3 linked regions of the Homo sapiens genome follow. The protein of the gene in region 2 purifies or fractionates together with the protein of the main gene of each other region. This does not show direct contact. Each region holds a gene or a part of one and is shown on either strand. Other genes may lie near its edges.

Evidence for each region. The genes of interacting proteins can lie anywhere in the genome.
Region 1: the proteins of SAMTOR (region 2) and ACAD11 purify together in Homo sapiens (affinity purification with mass spectrometry; 2 studies listed by BioGRID and IntAct, with this or other methods). This does not show direct contact.
Region 3: the proteins of SAMTOR (region 2) and DEPDC5 purify together in Homo sapiens (co-immunoprecipitation; 3 studies listed by BioGRID and IntAct, with this or other methods). This does not show direct contact.

Annotation. Positions count from the first base shown.
Region 1 is NC_000003.12:132,656,564-132,664,175, forward strand, and holds the start of ACAD11 (acyl-CoA dehydrogenase family member 11), read right to left. Parts: upstream 3,247-7,612; 5' UTR 3,189-3,246; coding exon 3,040-3,188; exon of another isoform or gene 2,934-3,039; intron 1-2,933. Other genes in the region: UBA5 (ubiquitin-like modifier-activating enzyme 5), read left to right, coding at 3,975-4,135. UniProt on the Homo sapiens protein: Acyl-CoA dehydrogenase, that exhibits maximal activity towards saturated C22-CoA.
Region 2 is NC_000007.14:112,936,113-112,944,929, reverse strand, and holds the start of SAMTOR (S-adenosylmethionine sensor upstream of mTORC1), read left to right. Parts: upstream 1-5,054; 5' UTR 5,055-5,179; coding exon 5,180-5,339; intron 5,340-8,817. UniProt on the Homo sapiens protein: S-adenosyl-L-methionine-binding protein that acts as an inhibitor of mTORC1 signaling via interaction with the GATOR1 and KICSTOR complexes.
Region 3 is NC_000022.11:31,904,019-31,908,779, reverse strand, and holds the end of DEPDC5 (GATOR1 complex protein DEPDC5), read right to left. Parts: intron 2,797-4,761; coding exon 2,714-2,796; intron 2,576-2,713; coding exon 2,283-2,575; 3' UTR 747-2,282; downstream 1-746. UniProt on the Homo sapiens protein: As a component of the GATOR1 complex functions as an inhibitor of the amino acid-sensing branch of the mTORC1 pathway.

The DNA.
Region 1 (7,612 bases), on a different chromosome or scaffold from region 2:
GCTCACTAAAGCCTCTGCCTCCCAGGTTCAAGCAATTCTCCTGCCTCAGCCTCCCGAGTAGCTGGGATTTACAGGTACCCACCACCACACCCAGCTAATTTCGTATTTTTAGTAGAGACGGGGTTTCACCATGTTGGCCAGGCTGGTCTCGAACTCGACCTCTGGTGATCCACCTGCTTCAGCCTCCCAAAGTGCTGGGATTACAGGCATGAGCCACTGCACCCAGTCTATTGTCAGATTTTTTAAAAGTCAATTTGGTGGTGTGAAATGGTTTCTCATTGTGTTGTTTTTTTTTTTTTAATTTGCATTTCCCTTATTACTACAGTATAATAAAGTTGAGCATCATCAAGTTTTCGCCCATTTTTCTGGTGAGCTATTATAGTTATATTCTGAATATTTTAACCATTATATGCACTGAAAATATTTTCTTCTGTCTTTTCACTTTAAGTCTTTTAATGAAAATTTATCAGTCATTTCCTTTGTGGTTTCTGCTGTTGTCTTTAAAATATTTTCTTCTCTAAAGTCAAAAATATAACTTACACATCTTCCAAACATTTATAGTTTAACATTCAGTTCTTTTATCTACCTGGAACTGTGTGAGATAAAGAGTCTAATTTCTATTTCTTCATACAGATAACAATTATTCCAGTATAACTTCTTGAAAAGTTCTTCTTTTCCCCCCACTGACTCTCAGTGCCAACATTGTCACTTATCAAACTTCTATAAATATGTGGGTCTTTCTGTGAACTCTCTGTTCTATTTTATTGGTCTGTCTATCTCTGTGCTAATATCATACCATCTTAACTCAAATTTCCCACCTTGTGGTTCTTTAAAAATGTTTCTGCTATCCTTAGCCCTTCGCTCTTACACATAAAATTTAGGAGCACTTTTTCAAATTAGAGAAAAAAATTAGGATTTTGATTGTCATTGCTTTGAATCAATAGATCAACTGGAAGAAAAAAGTTTGCAATATTGAATATTCCTATTCAACAACATGGCATCTCTCAATTTTTAAAATTCTTTTTAAGGTCCTAATAAAAGTTTTATCATTTCTCTACAAAGGTATTGCACATCTTTTACTTAGGTAATTTATATTTTTGATGCTCCTGTAAGTTTTTGAAAATTACATTTTAACTGTTGCTAAAGTAGAGAAATGCAGTTGATTTCTGTACACTGAACTTTGATAGTCTTTTACTGTCTATGTAGATTATTGGCTCTTTAATCCATGAATCACTTAATTTATAAACATGTATTTGTTAGCTATCTTCTGTTAAACTTTTGGTATTAAAAAAACACATATTCCTTTTTTTTTTTTTTTTTTTTGAGTCTCACTCTGTCACCTAGGCTGGAGCATGGTGGTGCAATCTTGGCTCACTGCAACCTCCCTCTCCTGGTTCAAGCGATTCTCCTGCCTCAGCATCCCAAGTAGCTGGGACTACAGGCACGTGCCACCACGCCCGGCTAATTTTTGTATCTTTAGTAGAGATGGGGGTTTCACCATGTTGGCCAGGCTGGTCTTGAACTCCTGACCTCAAGTGATCCACGTGCCTCGGCCTCCCAAAGTGCTGGGATTACAAGTGTGAGTCACTGCACCTGGCCAAAACACACATTTTCAAAATATAAAGATTGATTCTTTTGAGTTTCTGAGACTTCCTTCATGGCCTATGTGTTTTCAATTTTTATAAACTTTTTCATGTGTCCTAGAAATGAATGTGTGTTCTCTGTGGGATCCAGAGTTCCATATATATTTATTAAACCAAGCTTATACAACATTTCTGGAAGCAATTTTTATACCACAACTAATTTACAACTAATTTCATTTTTTGAACACGGTTATGGTTTAACATTCAGCTTGGTTCAGAATTAAGTATCTTTCAGTTATGTACCTCTTCAACACTCCTACAATATGAACGTTACTATCTCCTTTTTGCCAAAGCAGGACTAGATGTTCAAAGGGTAACTTGTCCAAATTCCACAGCAATTGAAATAGTTGAAATTTGAACTTTGATCTGTTTCAGTTTGTTACAACACAAGGCTTCTAGCCTAGAAATCTCAGCTATTCTTTATTCCACCTTTCCCTTCATCTTCCAATATCTATTGGGACATGGGACCTTTAAATTCTACACCCTAAAATGTTCCCTGATCCATCTCATTTATTATTATTTTCATTTTCACCAAAATCAGTAGTCAAAGAATATAAATGCTAGTGATAAAATACCACTAGCACACTATGTTGTTGCAATTTTTACGCCCTTTCACCTATATTACGGTATTTCATTTCATTAATAAGACTAATCAAAATAGGTATTACAACTTAGGAAACTAGTTCTCAGAGTGTTTATGTAACATATTTAAACTCCCAGACAGCAAGTGACAGATCCAGTTTTCTGAATGATAGGACTCTTTCTGTAGCCCTGTATTAGTAACAATGTTATTTTTAGAATAAAGTTTTAAGAATGTATTATCTATTGTAAAACATCAGACTAAAGCCAGATTCCCGGTGGGGAACGCTACTCTCAGGATCCTCTCACTCAGTTCCATTACCTCACTTCAAAAAACCTGAGGCCCAAAGTGGTGCTGTGACCTCCTAAGTGGAAAAGCTAGTACTCGAATTCGGATCCTCCATCTGGTGTCATTAACTCAGCCTCCCGGAATACGGCCAATCAAACGGAATTACACCAGCTTCTCAGAAAAAGATCTAATGGCTGTATCACAAAAGAAGGCATCTATTTCTCAGAATTTGTAGCCTTAATTGCCTTGGTGAATCCTCAAGGGACATAAATCCATCCTTTAACAAAGATTCCTTTGGATAGTAGAATGGTGAACGTTATTGCGCTTCCATTACCGCCCTCCAATTGGGAAGCCCCCAGCATCGAATTCGGAGGGCCGGCAATAGCAGCTCATGCCTGTAGGGTGCGTCCACTGACTGCAGGAAAAGCAATCAGGGTGGGAGAAACTTAGGAAACCACCCAGGGCCAAAGGAAGGAAAACTCAATGTACAAATTTTTTTCCGCTGGAGGCAAAGGCTGACATCCATACCTGTACTGGGCAATGGTCAGCGTAGCCTCACGTTCGGCCCCAAAGCCAGACAAGTGCTGGTTTAGGTAGGCCTCCAGGGACTTGCTGTCGAACTTGTGCTGGGGCAGCACTTCGGCCAAATCGGACTCGCCAGTAGCACCTGGCTTCATGATCACCCCCGCAGGCCACAGCAACGCGGCATCCACAGGTCTCGAGTGCCGAAGTCCTTCAGGATTGGGGCAACGTCCCCTCTAGAGCATGGGCCGAGGCCGGGGTGGGGTCTGGCTCCAGCCAACCGCACACAGCCTACGCGCCGTTGCTGAGCAACGCTTGCCCGCTGAATCCCGAGGTTTTAGCTCTAGTCAAGTGCCAAAAGAGCCCAATGTGTGTTCGGGTTTCAATTCTCCAGTCAGCGTCAGAGTTGGAGGCCTCAATTTTAAAGAAGGCAAAGCCATGGTCATCGTTGCGGGTAAGGAACAACGCAGAAGCCTCTTCCACCCCCAAATTTAATGCAACAGCAGGCGGAAGACCTGCAGGGTCCCGTTCAGAAAAAGGGCCGTCAGACTGTCGAGCCTAAGAATAAAAAGACCCTGTTTCTCTTAGATACCCGGTTAGCAAGGCAACATCGCTGGCCTCCTGCCCTGGACACTTATCACCCCGGTGCTGCTGCGGCCGGGTTTAGCCGGCCCAGCGAGGAAGGAAGCCGAAAGAGCCAGGTTTTTGATGAGGGGGAGCGATGTCTGCGACGCACCGGAAGCGGCTCCGAGGAAGGCCTGTGGGAGTCTCGGAGACGTGTCTGTCTGTGAGGCGCTGGGTGCACGTCCCCAGGGCTCTGGGCTAGGAAGGCAGCGGCGAGGTGCCTCCCCACGTACCCCTCGCGGGCCCAGCCGAGCAACGTGGGGCGAAGGCGGCGGCGAAGGCCCGGGCTGGGAGCGTTGGCGGCCGGAGTCCCAGCCATGGCGGAGTCTGTGGAGCGCCTGCAGCAGCGGGTCCAGGAGCTGGAGCGGGAACTTGCCCAGGAGAGGAGTCTGCAGGTCCCGAGGAGCGGCGACGGAGGGGGCGGCCGGGTCCGCATCGAGAAGATGAGCTCAGAGGTGGTGGATTCGAATCCCTACAGGTAACCTGCGTCGCCGGTCGGAGGCAGGCGCGGGGGACGAGGTCAGGCTCCGTGAGGTCAGAAGTGAGGCGCTTCCCACGTCCCGCTCATGGGGACGCCCGCCACCCTTTTCTTGGTCTGCGAATCCTGTTCCCAAATGGGCAAGGCCACATCTTAGTACTGATCGGAAGATATTCTTTCTCTTTTTTAAAAACCTCCAGTGAGTCAGCCATATGGTGCTGCTCCTGTGCCTGCTGAGGACGTGTGTCCAGTTTCCTATCACCCTTGCCTCTTAATTAGTCCGCCTCGCTGTGTATAAGACTGATAGTAAGAACTTTCAGAAGATGAGATCAAATATTAAACCTGCTAAGGTAAACTTTGAGTTTCATTAAAGGCTTATCAATGCATCTTAAATGGGGTCGGGGCGGGGGAGAGCGGGGTTAGCTCTATTCTGAGATATTCGGGTGCTCCTTAACATCTCAAACCATTCGACATTACCAAGACTGCCCAGGCCTCTCTTTTCTTCTTTCCTAACAAAGCTTATCAATTCAGCAGATGGAATATAGTGCAATGGTTAAGGGTAAGGACTCTACCGCCAGACTGATTGCAATTCAAATCTAACTACTCTCTTCGTAACTGCCTAACCTTTGGCAAGTTGTGAAACTTTCCGCTTCAGCTTCTCACCTGTACAATGAAGATAATAGTAATATCTATCTCTGTCATAGTTGTGGGGATTGAAAAAATCAGTATGTATAAAGGTCTTAGAGTAGCGCTTGTACATGGCAAGCCTTATACAAGATTTTATTGCTAGGTGCATTTAGTAGCAAGCAGTTATTGAGCTTTCACTGTGTAAGCACTTTACATGCATTGTCTCCTCCCACCAAAACCCTATGAGATTGCTACTATTTTACCCCCATTATATAAGTGAGAAAATTGAGGCTTAGAGAGCCACCTCAGGTTCATGCCTTGGTAGTAAATAATAAGGCCTGTCTTGCATTAGATTTGTCTTAATGTAAAATTCTCATGAACCGTCTCCCCAGTAAAAACAATTAAGTCGTGTAGCTAAAAATTGTATAGTGTTAAAGTAGATAAGGAAGATTTTATTGTTGCTTTTTTCCTTTAAAGAGCATAACAGTTTTGATTTTTAAAAAAGGTTTTAGTTTGTGATATATAAAGCCGCAGTAGAAGTCTTAGGGTGCACTGTTTTAACTGTGTTGCCAAATATGAACGGTTAATGGTCCAGAATTTTTAGAGATTAAATAAGCATGAACTGACATCTCTAATCAGAATAAGTGGAAACTATTTGACATTTTTAAAACATTTTAAAATTTTACAAATGAAGACTTTGAAATTTTCCCTCCAGAATGAAAAGCAGAGGAATATGGGTCATGAATTTAAGTTGTCTTTCAGACATTATTTAATATGAGATGATCCCTTGACATTGTAATTATAACAAAACTTTCAGAACTCAAGTCTAAATATGTAGTATTTTCTATCTGATTTGCACCATTGACTTTATTAAAATTGCTATACAGGAGATGGCAGTTTGATACCCAAAGCTGTTCACTGATATATGGAATTTTAATAAAGTTCAGCTTTAATTTTTTGAATTGTTCATACAGCAAATATTTACTGAGTACATTTTTGTCTCCAGTCCTCCTTGACAATATTATTTACTTTGTATTGAGTACTTATTGTGTGCAGACACTGTGAATATAAAGTAGACATGGTCTTTTCCCTCTAGAGCTTACCAGATGAGTGTGAGATAAATAGAAAAGTAAACATGCCATTGCAGTACAGGTGATAAGAATTATGATAAAGTACAGTGTTATTATTGATAAAGTACAGGTTATTGAATTATGATAAAGTACAAAAGGTTATAGGAAAGGGATATGTATGTGTTCAACACCATTTTAATTGCTTCAAGAGATACAAAAGAAATATAAAGCACCTGACTTTTGCTTCAGTTTGAGAGACTACATGGAGGTGGGATATTAAAAAACACAAGTAACCGTAAAATTATGTGTTATGGAATATAGTTATAAGCATGTGGAAAAATTGGAGAGGCTTTGAGATTAGAAAACCTGGTATCAAATCCTGGCTCAGAAACCCAGCTCAGAATACCACTTGCCAGTTAGCTGATTTTGGGCAGTTGATTAACCCAAACCGTTTCCCTCATCTGTAAAAGGGGGTTGCCATCCATGCTTCTCAGATTATTTAAAGATTGAAGGGAGCATCAAGGTAAGGATAGCAAATTCCTGTGATGGATCTGCCATCACTTTCTACCCAACCTCACTAAAGTGACAGTAAAGGAATTTTTTAAAAGAAACTCCCATTGAAAATATAAAGGGTTCGTATTAATAACTGATAGGGAGGGGTGGGTCCCTGTACTTGATTATAGTAACAATTTGGAAACTAGAGAAGGGATGGGTGAAGGTAACTGATTTAATAGATTCAGAGAAGTTTAATCTTAAGCTCGCAACCCAGTTTATTGCAAGAATCCCCCAAAAGGCTCAGGAATAGGCACAGGTACTTGCAGAACTTCAGGTAGGGCTAAAAAAAACTTTCAGTTGAAAATCTGTTGAAGAAACAAAAGCCCCAGATCCCCTACTCCACTGTGGGTAACTGGGCAAACACTCCTTCCCTACCAGAAGAGGAGAGTAGAGATTTCTTCATTAGAAAGAGTAAAATAGAAGATTTCCAAGAATAATTGGGGCAGGTCTTTGTACCTGAAGGAAGGGGTAAACTGATTGTTTACATGCTGAATGCTGTGACTGAATGTAAACTAAATGCTTACATACTGAGTGTCGAGACTCCCAGCCTTGCTTCTTCACTTCCAACAGCTGATCGTGGGGTTGGAACTCCAACTCAGGTTGGAGTTTGAAAGATTATTCTCTAGGGAATCTGATAGAGCCAAGAGGAAAGACTGAAAGACACTGACATTGTGGGTTTCTCAACTAAATAGTCTGGCCAGATGACCCTACAGTGAAGTCCAAAGTCAAACAGTTATTGCCTATATTGTTACCTTTATTAGTGTCCCACACTTAAATATGAACAGAACAAAGGATGAAAGAAACTTCTAACATGAAAGAAATAAAAATAGCAACTTGGATAGACTATGTAAGATAAACACATCCCCCTAAATTATCATTAGTATCCTTAGATGAGAGAAGATATGGTACAAATGATACAGGAACAAGGTGCAAAGTATTTAGATGATCAGGAATTCTTGCAAATGGAGATGGTAATAGAAATGAAAATCTTAATAGAAGTGTTGGAAAATAAAGTTGAAAGAAATCATCCAGAGAATAGAGCAGAAAACTAAAATAGTAGATAACTGGAGAAAGAAGATAAAGGACAAATCCAGATGGTTCAACTTCCAAATAATAGGAGTTCCAGATAGTCCAGGAAAAACAAACCAAACAAGGAAGTAACCAGATTCTTCAAGGACATTTCCCAGAACTGAAAATGTGAGTTTTCATTTTGAAAGAGTCCACT
Region 2 (8,817 bases):
GGTAATATGTATTTCTTACTAGAGTCACAGTAAAAAAAAAATTGAAAAACACTAGTCAAATCCAATCTCTTCATTTTACATTTGACAGAGGATAAATAAGGCTCAGAGAACCTTGCTCTGTTGGTTAATGCAAGGCTGGAATTAGGACACAGAAAATTTTAGTCCTACATTTCATTGTAAGGACATTATCACTTAGAAGAAGTGTACTTCTTTTTTATGTAGATCTATTCCTACATTAGCCCTGTTATGATTATCAGATATATTTCATTAATTAGTATATCACAAAATAGTATGTTTTATAATTGTATTTTGAGGTAAGCATTAATTAATGATTGTCACTTGGTTAACACCAGTCTATTAACTTTTGAAAGATAACAAATCTATGTGTTATTTTGAATACTTTTAATGTTCGCAGTTAAATTATGAATTGCAGGGAAGTCATTGAAATAGTAGTTAAAGACATAAATTTTTAAAGAAAATAACCCTTTTAATTTTTAATCAATAGAAGGATTTTTAAGTTGTAATCTGCCATATTGAATAGAAATATATCACTAAAAATATTTTTCTTGTTAGTTCTCCACTGTTTGTCTCTATCAAAACATTAAATACGGAATTTTCCAAAGAAAGTTTCTATGATTTGAAATAAAATATGAAAAACAAAAGGCTTAACAATTTCTCTATAATGTGCTCAACTAAAGATACATCTACTTTTTAAAATTCTGAATACAAAAAATCATTTAAACTTCATGGATATTTTTATATTCATGGGTAAGAATTTTGGAAACAGTGGTAAATATTTTCAAAATGACATAGATTTTACTTTTCCAGTCCTCATTTTAATTGAATTCCTAAAGATTCTATTTCTAAATAGTCATGAACCAAAGATTTGTCCAGCTTGGAATACAGCTGTATCTTCAATAATAAAGCTGATCAAGTCTTTTTGCACAATTGACATACACTGTTGTTTTAACATTTTTATGTTTTAGAAACAGAAGTTTAATATTAATACTTTTATTATGCAACATTAAAGTCTAATTGCTTTTATGATTTTTATAATAAAGAGGGCCAAAGCAAAGTAGATAATACCAAGTCACTGAAGAATAAAAATAAATAATGCCTTAGATTATTCAAAGAAGCCCAATTTCTTTTTTTTCTTTCTTTCTTTTTTTTGTTTGAGACAGGGTCCCACTCTGTCACCCAGGCTGGAGTACAGCGGCACAATCATGGCTCACTGCAGCCTCGACCTTCTGGTCTCAAGTGATCCTCCCACCTCAGCCTCCCAAAGTGCCTGGATTACAAGTGTGAGCCACCAAATTTGGCCAAGAACCCCAACTTCTATTATGTAGTCTTCTCTCTTCTACAGCAACACTCAAGAGGGTCAGAATGAAATGTACAACACTTTTACAAAGCACACCCAGAATCTACGGGTTACCTCAGTGCCTCATCCCAGATTTTGATATGGATTTTTAAGTTGACTTTTCATCACCCATTAATTTTTTCAAACTCACACTGGGAATAGAACATATTTTATTACTGCAATATGTTGACTCTTTACACCCTTTGTAGGAATTTGTGTTACTTATAAAGAATATAACTGTAAACAAAGATGACAAGGTATTTTTCTCACCAAAAACATTTTTTCTGTACTGAGTGGTTCTTGAACAAAGGAAGCTTACTTGACCTACCTAATGTGTAAGGAATTAGGTACAGAAGCTGGTTAGGTAAGGCAAAGAATGAGGATGAGAAATTTACTTATCAGGGGTTTAGAGCGGTCATTAGAAAAGCCTCTACTTCCCAGACTGGTTTGTCCTGCTCAGTGAAGAGTGTTTTATTCCAACATCCTCTTTCCCTAACAGGCATTTAAAATAATGAGAGAATTTTTTAAAACAAGATATTTACAGTAAATAAAAACCTGTCACCACAAAGTGGGGAAAGTTGCTGACATTTTCCTGGGCATAGGATATGCTCATTGAATATGGCACCAAGCCTGCTTCCTTCAGTGAATCCATTTTATCAGCAATTAGGACTGTTGTTTCACTTAAATGGAGAATTCCATTATGACTCCTCAGCAACCTTAACAGATAGAAAGCTTTTTGTAATATTGCTAACTACACAGGAGGAAAGTAGTTATAAACTCCCTTTTGTGCTGTGGTGGATAGTCAGTGGAAAAAAAATCACCTTAAAATATTTCTCAGGACATGTTGGCCTATACCTCATTTGAATTCACGCATCTTTAAAATAAAATCTGTGCCTGGCGCCGTGGCTCACGCCTGTAATCCCAGCACTTTGGGAGGCCAAGGTGGGTGGATCACCTGAGGTCGGGAGTTTGAGACTGGCCTGACCAATATGGAGAAACCCCGTCTCTACTATAAATACAGAATTAGCCGGGCATGGTGGCGCATGCCTGTAATCCCACCTACTCGGGAGGCTGAGGCAGGAGAATCGTTTGAACCTAGGAGGCGGAGGTTGCAGTGAGCCGAGAATGCGCCACTGCACTCCAGCCTGGGCAACAAGAGTGAAACTCCATCTCAAAATAAAATAAAATAAAATAAAATAAAATAAAATAAAATAAATCTTATTTTTATTTTTAAAATAAAATCTTTATTTTATAATAAAAAATTTAAAATTTTTTAAATGAAAATTTTAAATAAAACATTTTTTAAATAAAAAATTTAAAGAAAATAAAAAGATTTCATTTTCTTTAAAATAAAATCTGGCTGTCCAATTGTTATTTCTTCGGTTGCTTTTCAAGAAAGTGTGAAGTCAAAAAGTAATTTTAAAAGGTAGGACTCTTCAATCTGCTTGAACAACAACAACTAGATAGTCTTAAATAAGTTCCTTTTATTTATTCTTACGTTGGTATTTTAAGTTAAATATTATACCAATAAGAATAGCTAGTTACGAAACAGCAGGAAATTCCACATATTTATTTAAAAAATAGACATGTTTTTAAAATCTCATTAATGACTTTGTAAATTGTAATACCTACCTTTGGTAAGGGTGCAATGAAATAAACACCCATAGGTACTAGTGGACATGGCATAAACTGCTACTATCTTTCAGAAAAGGCAATTTCATAATATACATCAAAACCCTAACATGTTTGACCCTTTGCTTCAGAAATTGAACTTTTAGGAATTTAGCCTGATGGAATGTATAATTAAAGAAATGGACAAATACTTGTGTGCAAATGTGTTTGTCATGACATTATCTGTAATACAAAAAAGCTGGAAAAAACATAAATCTACAATAACTGGGAATTGGTTAATGAAATAGTAGGCTATTCATACAATAGATTGCCACATAGGCATCAAGAAATATCCTATTTGAAATTAGTATATACAAACAAAGAAAAAATGTTAAGTTGTTATCTCTCAGTCCAGATGTCTTATTTTCTTTACTCTTTTCTGTATTTTCCAAATTTCCTTCAGTGAACATCTTCAGTTAAGAGGCCTTAAAAGTTCATTTGCTAGTATTATGCTGAAAAGTTCTTTTTTAAAAAATAAAACTACAGTTCAGCACAAGTGAAATTTAATGCTCTTTTTACTATCATTGTATCTTTCGAATATCTGCACCATTATTTGCCTTCCATATGTATTAAAATATGGAAAGAGCCAAAAGAGACATGTAATTCAAGCTCCCCTTTCTTCCCAAATGAAATTCCCCCAAATAAGACCACCATATTTTCAATTTATTAGGCACTTCCGCTTAACTTCTCTTCATAATTATAAGGAGTTCTTTTGAAGTTTATATGTCCTTGTCTTTGTGTTTGATCTGTCTCTTCACTGTGCTGTAGGGACACATCTTCCGCCTTTAAATTCCATCAATCTCCCTTCACCTCCCGCTTCTCCTGTGTCCTAGACAGTGTGTATAATTCTTTGCTCTTCAGCGTATTCAATATAAAGAAGGTAGCATATAAAACAGTTACATAATGCAAGCTTTATTCGTAGTTAGAAAATCATTATCAAAATGTTACCATTGCAATCATTTCCATAGACTGTCACGTAACCAACACCTGCAATGGGGAAGTGGTACACAATCCAACACAACTCATTAGGGGCTCTCAGTCTATTCAATCTCTGACACTCCAGCAGCCTCAGTACCACTTCAGGAGCCAATGCAGTCTACCTCTCTCCAGAGAGCAGTGTTCCACCTTTCTGGGACAGAAGTCAACAATCGCGTTCCCCAAGAGATGGAAAAGAAGTGGAGGAGGGTGAACAGGTTACCAAACCCACTTAGATACACTCCGCATAGACTAACTCTCCAAATTAAAGGACAGGAGGTCACCTGAGCTGACCATAAAAGCTCAGAGTGCTGATGCGAATAAGATCAGGGAAGGCTGCTTATTAACACCGTGGTCACTACAAAAGTTCTTGAGGGCATCTGCTGTGAGTTTTCCATCGTTCCTTATTGTCCTCCTGCATCTCCTGTTGCTTTTCTTGGCCCTCTCCTTTTCGCATTTTCTATGTCCTTTGCCCAGCAGTAGTACTGCAGGCATAAACCATTGTCGACCTGAGAATTAAATTAGCATTTGGTAGCCAGACCTCTCCTTGAGCCTTAGAATGCTTGTGTGCTTGAGGTCCCTGAAGTGTAACGTCATCTCAAAGCGCAAGTAACTAAAGGGAACCTACATGTGACAAGGTGCAGCGGAGGTTCAAGCAGAGCACCCTGGCCGCATCGCAACAGATTATAAAGTGTAGGGGATGAAAATGATGGAAGACATCAGAAAGCCGAGCTGTAAAAAAGCCCAAACTAAGCAAACTGAGACGCGCAAGCGCGTTGCTCACAGCTCGTCTCCCGAGGCCGAGCCACAGCGCCTGCGCACAGAATCCGGGGAGGGTGGGGAAGAGATGAGCACCCAGGCCTGGAGCTCCCACTGCCTCAGCCTCCCTATCCCCGCAAGCTCCGCCTCCTCCAGCTGCTCGCCTTCCCAAACAACCGGGTTCGCCGCCGGCGCTTTCTGCCCATTGGCCCTTAGCCTTTTCCGTTTCCGCCCAGCCCTCAAAATCCACCAATCAGTTTGCACTTTTGGGTGAGGGTCCACCTCCAAGGCTGTCGCTCCGGTTCCTCTGCCTCCTCTGGCTGCTGCCTCCGCAGCTCCCTCCTCCTACCCCACCTCCTCCATCTGGGGAGCGTCTGCGGGGGCCTGAGGGGCGGCGGCGGCGGCGGCGGCTGCGATATGGAGCCAGGGGCCGGCGGCCGAAATACTGCTCGTGCGCAGAGGGCCGGGTCCCCGAACACTCCGCCGCCCCGGGAGCAGGAGCGGAAACTGGAGCAGGAGAAGCTCTCCGGTGTGGTGAAGAGCGTCCACCGGCGGCTCCGCAAGAAGTACCGAGAAGGTAAACAGCGCGCTGAGTGAGGGAGGAAGGGGAGGCCTCATCACCCCCAACCGCTTGTCACCTCTTCCCTCCTCCAAAGAGGCCACCATTAAAATGTAAAGGATCTGCACGTCCCCCCAGCCGCTGCTGCTCTCCCGGGCCTGGTCTGAGCCCCCTAGTCGGCATCAGACGCGCTCCTCCCCGCCCCCTTTTCTTTGAGGGCCCTTCGGGAGAGTTCTAGGCCTGTAAAGGAATTGAGTCCCCACCCCCTCCAAGCCCCTGTCCCCAGCCGGGGTGCTGAGGTTGTTGTCTCGGCACACACAAACACATACACGCTCACAGAGGAGGTGGGGGTCGCTTTTTGCAAGAGACGCCGAGGTAAAACAAGACAGGTAAAATCCATTTGTAAAAGACGAAAAGAAACCTGAGTTGTCCCTCCTTTACGCTTGACCTACCGGCTGTACCATTTGCTTCCTTATCAGACCCCCTTCCTAGTACTTCATTCCTACAACCATGCCGAGCCTTCCTCGCATTGGCTTCCAGGGCTGGGAAGCCAGCAGGCCTTTTAGCTGACTGGACTTCACATTGTTAAAAGGGGGCGGGCTACACTCGTGGCCCCCACTCCCATTTCTTAAATACTTGGTCTTAACTGTTTATTTAGGCGATGAGGAAGAGATCTGGGCAGGTTCTGAAAATACCGTTTGTATTGGAAGCCTCCTAAAGACACCTGCCGATAAAGCCCACCCTCGGCTTCCATGGATGGGGTTCCGGTGAGAACCCCCTCTGTGGAAGCTCATAGGGGAAGAAGCCTTAGTGGCTTTTGCCTGTGCCTGAAGAGTGTTTATAGTTGGAGTCTACAGTTATCCTTGATATCTTTAAATATAGGCTTTTGTACACAGCTGTTTTATAAGATTTTGACAGTGAAAATTCTGTTTTCATAGGCTTGGGAGAGAGACTTCTCCTGAGTATCGAAATGAGGAAAGCTTTCCACTGGTTCTCATTTTAGCTTAATTGCAAACTGAAAAGTCAGCAGCCTTCTGGTGTTAGTCCTATACTTAGTTAATAATTTAGGATTAGAAGGAAAATTATGGCAGTGAAGGAATACAGACAGGTAAGATCATGTTACTGTTGATTTATACACACGTTTCAACTACTCTAGAAAGTTAAAACTAAGTATCCTTTGTTCTTTTGAATGTAGTTGATATGTTTCATTTTTCAAACTTTAAAGGTTTCTTTCCTTAGCAAATCAAGCTTAGCTTTTAATAGAGGCTGTTTAATCATCCCCAAATGGGGCTTGTAGTTATTGTTTAACAGATAGCAATAGAAAGAGTCTTATCAGACCTACTTAGGATGGTAAAATATGTTTTTTGAAAGAATGCTACCCAAACCCACAATTTAGTCAATAAAATGAGTAGTTACCATAGCAACAACTGCATCATTCTTGATATTCAAAGAATGCTCTTACATAATGGAATTCACTGTAGATTTTATGTTATTTGGAGAGATTAGGAAATAAATGGACACATTTTCCTGCAATTTATCCTGCTATTTTGTACAAATTTAAGTGCATCTTTCTAAAGAGAAAAATGACTAGCATAGAATTCCATTTCTATTTTTACCTTTTAATAATTTCATTATTCATTTATTCATAAATGAATAGGTTCCACTCAAATTAACACACTAATGTGGCATCTCTTCAAGTGCTGTTTATATGTGCTTAGTTCCCACATGTTTAACCATGTTTTAAGCCTGAGTATTAACCACAGGAACTCTTGTTTATGAGAATCGGAAGTTACCAGATCTAGAATAGATACATGGAGTTCATAAGTGAATGATCTAGTATGCTTCTGGGGAGTTAAAGTCCTGGCAGTTTAAACATTTGAATGAGACTATTCTTTAGGCGCTTTAATACCCTGAATTTCACCGGTGATCTAGACTTCTCTAGGCTTTGCTTGAATGATATACAAAGCCCCATCAGTGAATTAGCAGAATAAGTGATCCTAATGAGCATGCTCCTTCTACCTTTATTTCTGACATATAGGCTAAATATTAGTAGTAAAAAAGTCATCTGTGAAAAACTCTGTGCACATAATAATACTAAGGAAATAATTTTTAGTGTTTTACTTTGAGGACTTAGTATTGTGCTGATGGTCCCCAGTCTGTAAACATATTTTACAAGTTCATTTGCAAGTCAGCTGTTATTGTAATCTGAAGATTGCTTAAGTGCTAGATCAGTCTGCAAAGGCCCATTGAATCAATAACATACCTGAACTATAGCACCAATAACTATGGAAACTGTACCCCTTTTATCACAATTCTTCTACCAGCAAATGCAGTGAAAATTCCAGCTTAGGATCTTGGAGTTTTAGACTAGAAGGAACCTCTTAGCATTTAGCAGTGATTCCCAAACATGGCTGATCAGCAGATTCAACTGGGTGCCTCTTAGACAATTCCTGTATTCTACCTCAGATCTATAGTTTAAGATCCCTATTATTAGGAACTGGAAATTGTCAGCCAGATATTAGAGTGGTGATCTAATAGCTTCTTCATTTTACAGATAAGTGAGCGGAGTCCTAAAAATATTAAAATAACTTTCTTGATGCTTTGGTAGTTCATTATTAATACTATACATATTTTATGGGAATAATATAGGTTCCCCACCCCCAACTCCAAACCTAATATTAGTGACTCCAAATGTTAGAATAGGAGGGAAAATGAGAAGCAGGAAGTGGCCCTAGAATTTCCATTAGGTGAAAAGTTATAAATTGATGGGAATGGATGATCCATAGGATAGGTATGATTAGCTGAGTTGGGGCTATACAAGGTGAGGGTTTTTTGGGGAGAGATGGCAGGGAAGGAAATAAGTTAGGGTAGAATAAGGAGGCAAAACAGCCATTGAATATTAAGGACAGGATAGATAGTGACTGGGAGGTTGGAGAACAGAGCCTTCTTTTCCCTTATCTCTATTAGTGGAATTGAAAATAAAACAGGAAAAACAATGAAAATAAGTTGTGTTGTTCTTTTTTGCTGTGATAAGAAAAGATTTTTTTCCACTCTTCTCCAACCATTTGCCCAACTGATGCTAGTTGATGGTGATGAACAGGCTTGGGGTGGGGAAGGGTGAACAGGGTTGTAAAGAGTAGCAGGTAGGCTTAATGCACTCTTTTCGTTTACCACTTTTTCCTTCCCCAGTTTATGGCCTGCCTTGTTTCACCACTTAAGAGATGCTGTGCCAATTTGTCTAAAGGTAAAGTGAGAACTGGAGATAAAGGTGTGTTCCAGGCAGCACTCGTATCTGAAGCAGTTACTAAAAAGAAATGGTAGGGAGATGCCTAGCAGTGGTGATGCGAAGGGGTATTTCTGGTGTCTGCCATTGATAGTTAAGAGACAGTCTTTTAAAGTGAGGTTATATTCATAAGATATTCATAAGATAGGTTTTTCACTATCTAGTGAATAGATCCATATTTATAAATGGAAATATGCTTGCACATATAGGTGT
Region 3 (4,761 bases), on a different chromosome or scaffold from region 2:
CATCTACTATTATCATGTACACTTGGGAACAAAAAGATGAACAAAATAGAGAAGCTTTGGCTGGGCACGGTGGCTCACGCCTGTAATCCCAGCACTTTGGAAGGCCGAGGCGGGTGGATCACAAGGTCAAGAGATCGAGACCATCCTGGCTAACACGGTGAAACCCCGTCTCTACTAAAAATACAAAAAATTAGCCGGGCATGGTGGCGGGCGCCTATAGTCCCAGCTACTCGGGAGGCTGAGGCAGGAGAATGGCATGAACCTGGAGGCGGAGCTTGCAGTGAGCTGAGATCGCACCACTGTATTCCAGCCTGGGTGACAGAGCCGGACTATGTCTCAAAAAAAAAAAAAAAAAAAAAAGAAAGAAAGAAAAAAAAAGAAGCTTCTGCCATGGTAGAGTGTAAACATGTTGAGTACCATGCTGGAGAAGTACAAAGTGCTGTGGGAGGATGTAACAGGGCCAACTCTGCTTCTCTGGAGAAGTGACAGTTGAGCTAAGAGCTGATGGCTGACCACCAGGAGTTAGTGAGACAGAGCGGGCATGGAGGGAGGCATGTTCCAGGCAGATGGAACAGAGGGAACAGCAAGTGCAAAGCGTCTGAGCTGGTGCAGAGTTTGTGATGTTCCAGGGACTGTGTGATGGCCAGGGTGGCTGTACAAACAGCCCACCAGACCAGACTGTGCAGGACCATGTGGGCTGCATCTAAGATTTTTGAAGTTCAAGTCACCAAAAAGTTCTAGTTAAGTGGTGGGCAAAATCACAGTGGTTTTATAAAAAGACTGACTGACAAGTGGAGTGAAAGCAGAGACAAATTAGAAGGTTTTCCTGGGGATCTAAGAGAAAGACAAAGGAAGGCTGGACTGAGTGGCAGCTCAGGGCCTGGGAAGAAGAGAATGGATGCAAAGCCATTGAGGAGGCAAATCAACAGAGCTTGTGATGAACTCCACGTGGTGAGATGGCACAGCAAGAAGTGGCAGTCACTGTCGGATTCTCCCCTCTGACCCACAGCTCCTGAACTGCCCTGAGTAGCTTAAGGCAGGGTGCTGAGGTGAAGCACCAAGCTGAGTCTTATCTCAGCAAATCTAAGTTAGGCCGGGCATGGTGGCTCACACCTGTAATCCCAGCACTTTGGGAGGCTGAGGTGGGTGGATCGCCTGAGGTGAGGAGTTCAAGACCAGCCTGGCCAACATGGTGAAACCCCATCTCTACTTAAAATACAAAAAATTAGCCTGGTATGGTGGCAGGTGCCTGTAATCCCAGCTACTCGGGAGGCCGAGACAGGAGAATCGCTTGAACCCAGGAGGCAGAGGTTGTAGTGAGCTGAGATCACACCATTGCACTCCAGCCTGGGCAACAAGAGTGAAAACTGTGTCAAAAAAAACAACAAAAAAAACAACAACAAAAAAAACCTAAGTTAGAGTCTACAAAATGTTTCCTTTGATTTTTTTCAGAATGCCATCATATCTGCGTCCCAGAGCTGAGCTCACCCATTTAGCAAGATTCATTCTGACAGCATGAGCCTGCAGTTACCTTGTAAGTTATACTGCCTGCTCACTGTCCTCACTGGAACCATCCTTGCTCCTGCCCAGTGGCCTATGAAAGAAATCTCTCAATAAACTCCCAGCCAGACTCTAAGCCAGTGAATTCTGAAGCCCTCTCACCATCTGTGACCACTTCATTGACTGCCATGACCCCGGCCACCTGGCACAACTGCCCAGCCCAGGATGGGACTGCTTCTGTGGGGAACTGGGTGGGGAAAGAAATGATGCACGTGGAGCTCTTTATTTGCTTCTGATATGTACAGGTATATACAGTTGGTGAGAGTCTATGGTACATTATTTCACAAAATTATCTTACATCTGTGCACACTCCTGGGCAAGAAGTGGCAGATTCTGCCCCTAATATCCCATAGATGGTGAAGGAAAAGGATGCTACCAGGAGCCACCCCCTTCCGAGGACATTCATGGGGGCCGCCTGCCCTCTTCCCAGACACTGGAGCCCTCCCACGGACAATCTGTGCCTCCCACCTGCTCTGAGCACTTGCTGACAGGAGTGGTGGCAGCAGCAGCAGCTGCTTCCAAAGTCTTTCTTCTAGAGTAGAAGACTTGTCGTGGGGGCCAAAAACAAACAAACAAACAAACAAACAAACAAAAAACAATGGCCCCCACTCACTGATAGCAGCAAACGGACACCTGACTCCTAGAGCCTGCCTGGAATCCTCCGCCCCGGGTTTGAGGGCAGTGGCTCACCCACCTTCCCCCAGCACAGGTGCAGCCTGGCCTCACGGGGCACTGGCATGCATCTTCTCCAGGCAACTTGTCCAGAACGTGACCAGCCGGTTGTCACGGTTGATGCAGAAGTCCGTGAAGTCCTTCAGCAGCCGATCAGCAAACTTTTCATCCCCTGTGGCGCTGGAGCGCCATGTTTTGGTGAGCATGGTGTTGTAGGCCCAGTTGTAGCCGACCCGCTCCTCGCAGAACATGTTCTGGTTGGTGGAGCTGGTGGAGTTCCGCCGCCGCCGCTGCTGCCCTGAGAACTTGCGCTTGGAGTAGGGCAGCTGCAGAAACACTGTTCCTGAAGAGAAAGGGGAGCGCCTGTGTGGCAGCCACCAGGAGGGCTCCTGGAGCCTGCTGAGGTGGTTCTGCAGCCATAGGCTTGGTGCAAGGAAAGGGATGTGGACCCACCTGCCCAACTCTGCCCGTAGCTCCTCACCTGTAACGTGGATATACTGAGGCTTGTTCTCAGCAGGGAAGTTAAAAGCAGAGGCAGAATATTTATCTTGTACAAACCCAAACCTAGGGAAGGACAGGAAGACATGCTAATCAGCGCCTCCTTAGTTAAAGGGGCAAGGGAAGAGAATGTAGCTGATAGGACTCTCGGACAGCCTGAGACACAGAGATCTGGAAAGATCTCTTTCCAGATTGCACATGCAGGCTGCTTATTTTTGTCCTCACCCTCACCACTTTCTGACCTCTACCTCTTCCAACACCATGGCTTACCAGACCTCCTCACACCCAGCAGCCCGTCATCTCCGTGGTCCACCATGTCACTACCACCATAGTGAAAGAAAGCCTTCCCACCGGCTGCACTCTTCATCCAGCCTTCATCTCTGCTCAGACAGCCCGTCCCTCCTACCATGTTCCCTACCCATCCCAGCAGACCTTCCCACTGAGCGTTCTCCCCCATCCCATCCTGGGCCTCTCACTGGAATCTACCTCATGTCTTGACAGGCCACACATACCCACCCGCATACTCGAGGCTATCCATTCCTCCAGGGAAGGTCCTTATCTTTTTTTTTGGTGAGAGGGAATCTCGCACTGTTGCCCAGACTGGAGTGCAATGGCATGATCTCGGCTCACTGCAACCTCTGCCTCCTGGGTTCAAGTGATTCTCCGCCTCAGTCTCCTGAGTAGCTGGGATTACAGGCATGTGCCACCATGCCTGGCTAATTTTTGTATTAGCCAGGATTGTTCTGGAATTAGCCAGGAGAATCACTTGAATCCGGGAGGCGGAGGCTGCAGTGAGCTAAGATCATGCCATTGCACTCCAGCCTGGGTGACAGGGCGAGACTCCATCTCAAAAAGAAAAAAAAAGAGGAACGCCAAGCTGGGGCTCTCTGCTTCCCTGTGCTCTGGAAATGGGCAGGAGGAGCCATTTTTCATCTATGGCTTGTTCTATTCCTGGTTTTTCTATTTCCATAAGGCACATTTATTACAGTTCTACCTGCTAAGAGCTGTAAAGGACGTGGTAACAGATGTGGCTCCTGCCCTCTAAGTCTGAGGGGTTTATATAATGGAGACAGTGATGTAGGCAGAACTAAAGAAGGGAAAATGCCTGTCTTCTTTCCTGGACTGAGTTCCTTGGGGAGGTGCTGTGTTGTATCCTCTACATAATCTGCATTCCATAATTTTTTACCAAAGAATACATGAAGTCAAATATGCAAACTAAATGGGTAGGCTACTATGCACTGTAAGCTCCCTGTCTACAGGCTGATTATATGATGAGGATTGGCTCTGGATTTTGCCTTTGCAAAATCCTCTCTACTCTTGCTCTGTCATCCAGGCTGGACTGCAGTGGTACAATCTTGGCTCACCGCAACCTCCACCTCCCGGGTTCAAGCAATTCTTGTGCTTCCAGCCTCCCAAGTAGCTAGGATTACAGGCACGCGCCACCATGACCAGTTAATTTTTGTATTTTTAGTAGAGACGGGGTTTCACCATTTTGGCCAGGCTGGTCTTGAACTGCTGACCTCAGGTGATCCGCCTGCTTCGGCCTCCCAAACTGCTGGGATTACAGGCGTGAGCCACCACACCCAGCCTGCTTTCTCTCTACTTTCTAATTAAGGCTACTGATTTCCTCAGCATGGATCAGCCTGATTTTTTTTTACCAGAGTAATTTTTTTTTACCTCATTTCTTCCTTAGGTCACCAGGAAAGAACAAAAAGGCAATTTAACCACATGGTTCCTGGCCACCTGACTGTCCACTCAGGGAGAATGCAAGACAGAAACGCAGTAAGGGCAGGGGAGGGGATATAATCATCTCCACCTGCCCCAAGGAAGATGAAGGAGGAGCTGTAGGTCACAGCCTAGGGGCTGAGGAAGATGAAGGAGGAGCGGTAGGTCACAGCCTAGGGGCTGAGGAAGATGAAGGAGGAGCTGTAGGTCACAGCCTAGGGGCTGAGGAAGATGAAGGAGGAGCTGTAGGTCACAGCCTAGGGGCTGAGGAAGATGGACACTTTTTTAGCTCTTTCTGAGATGGAC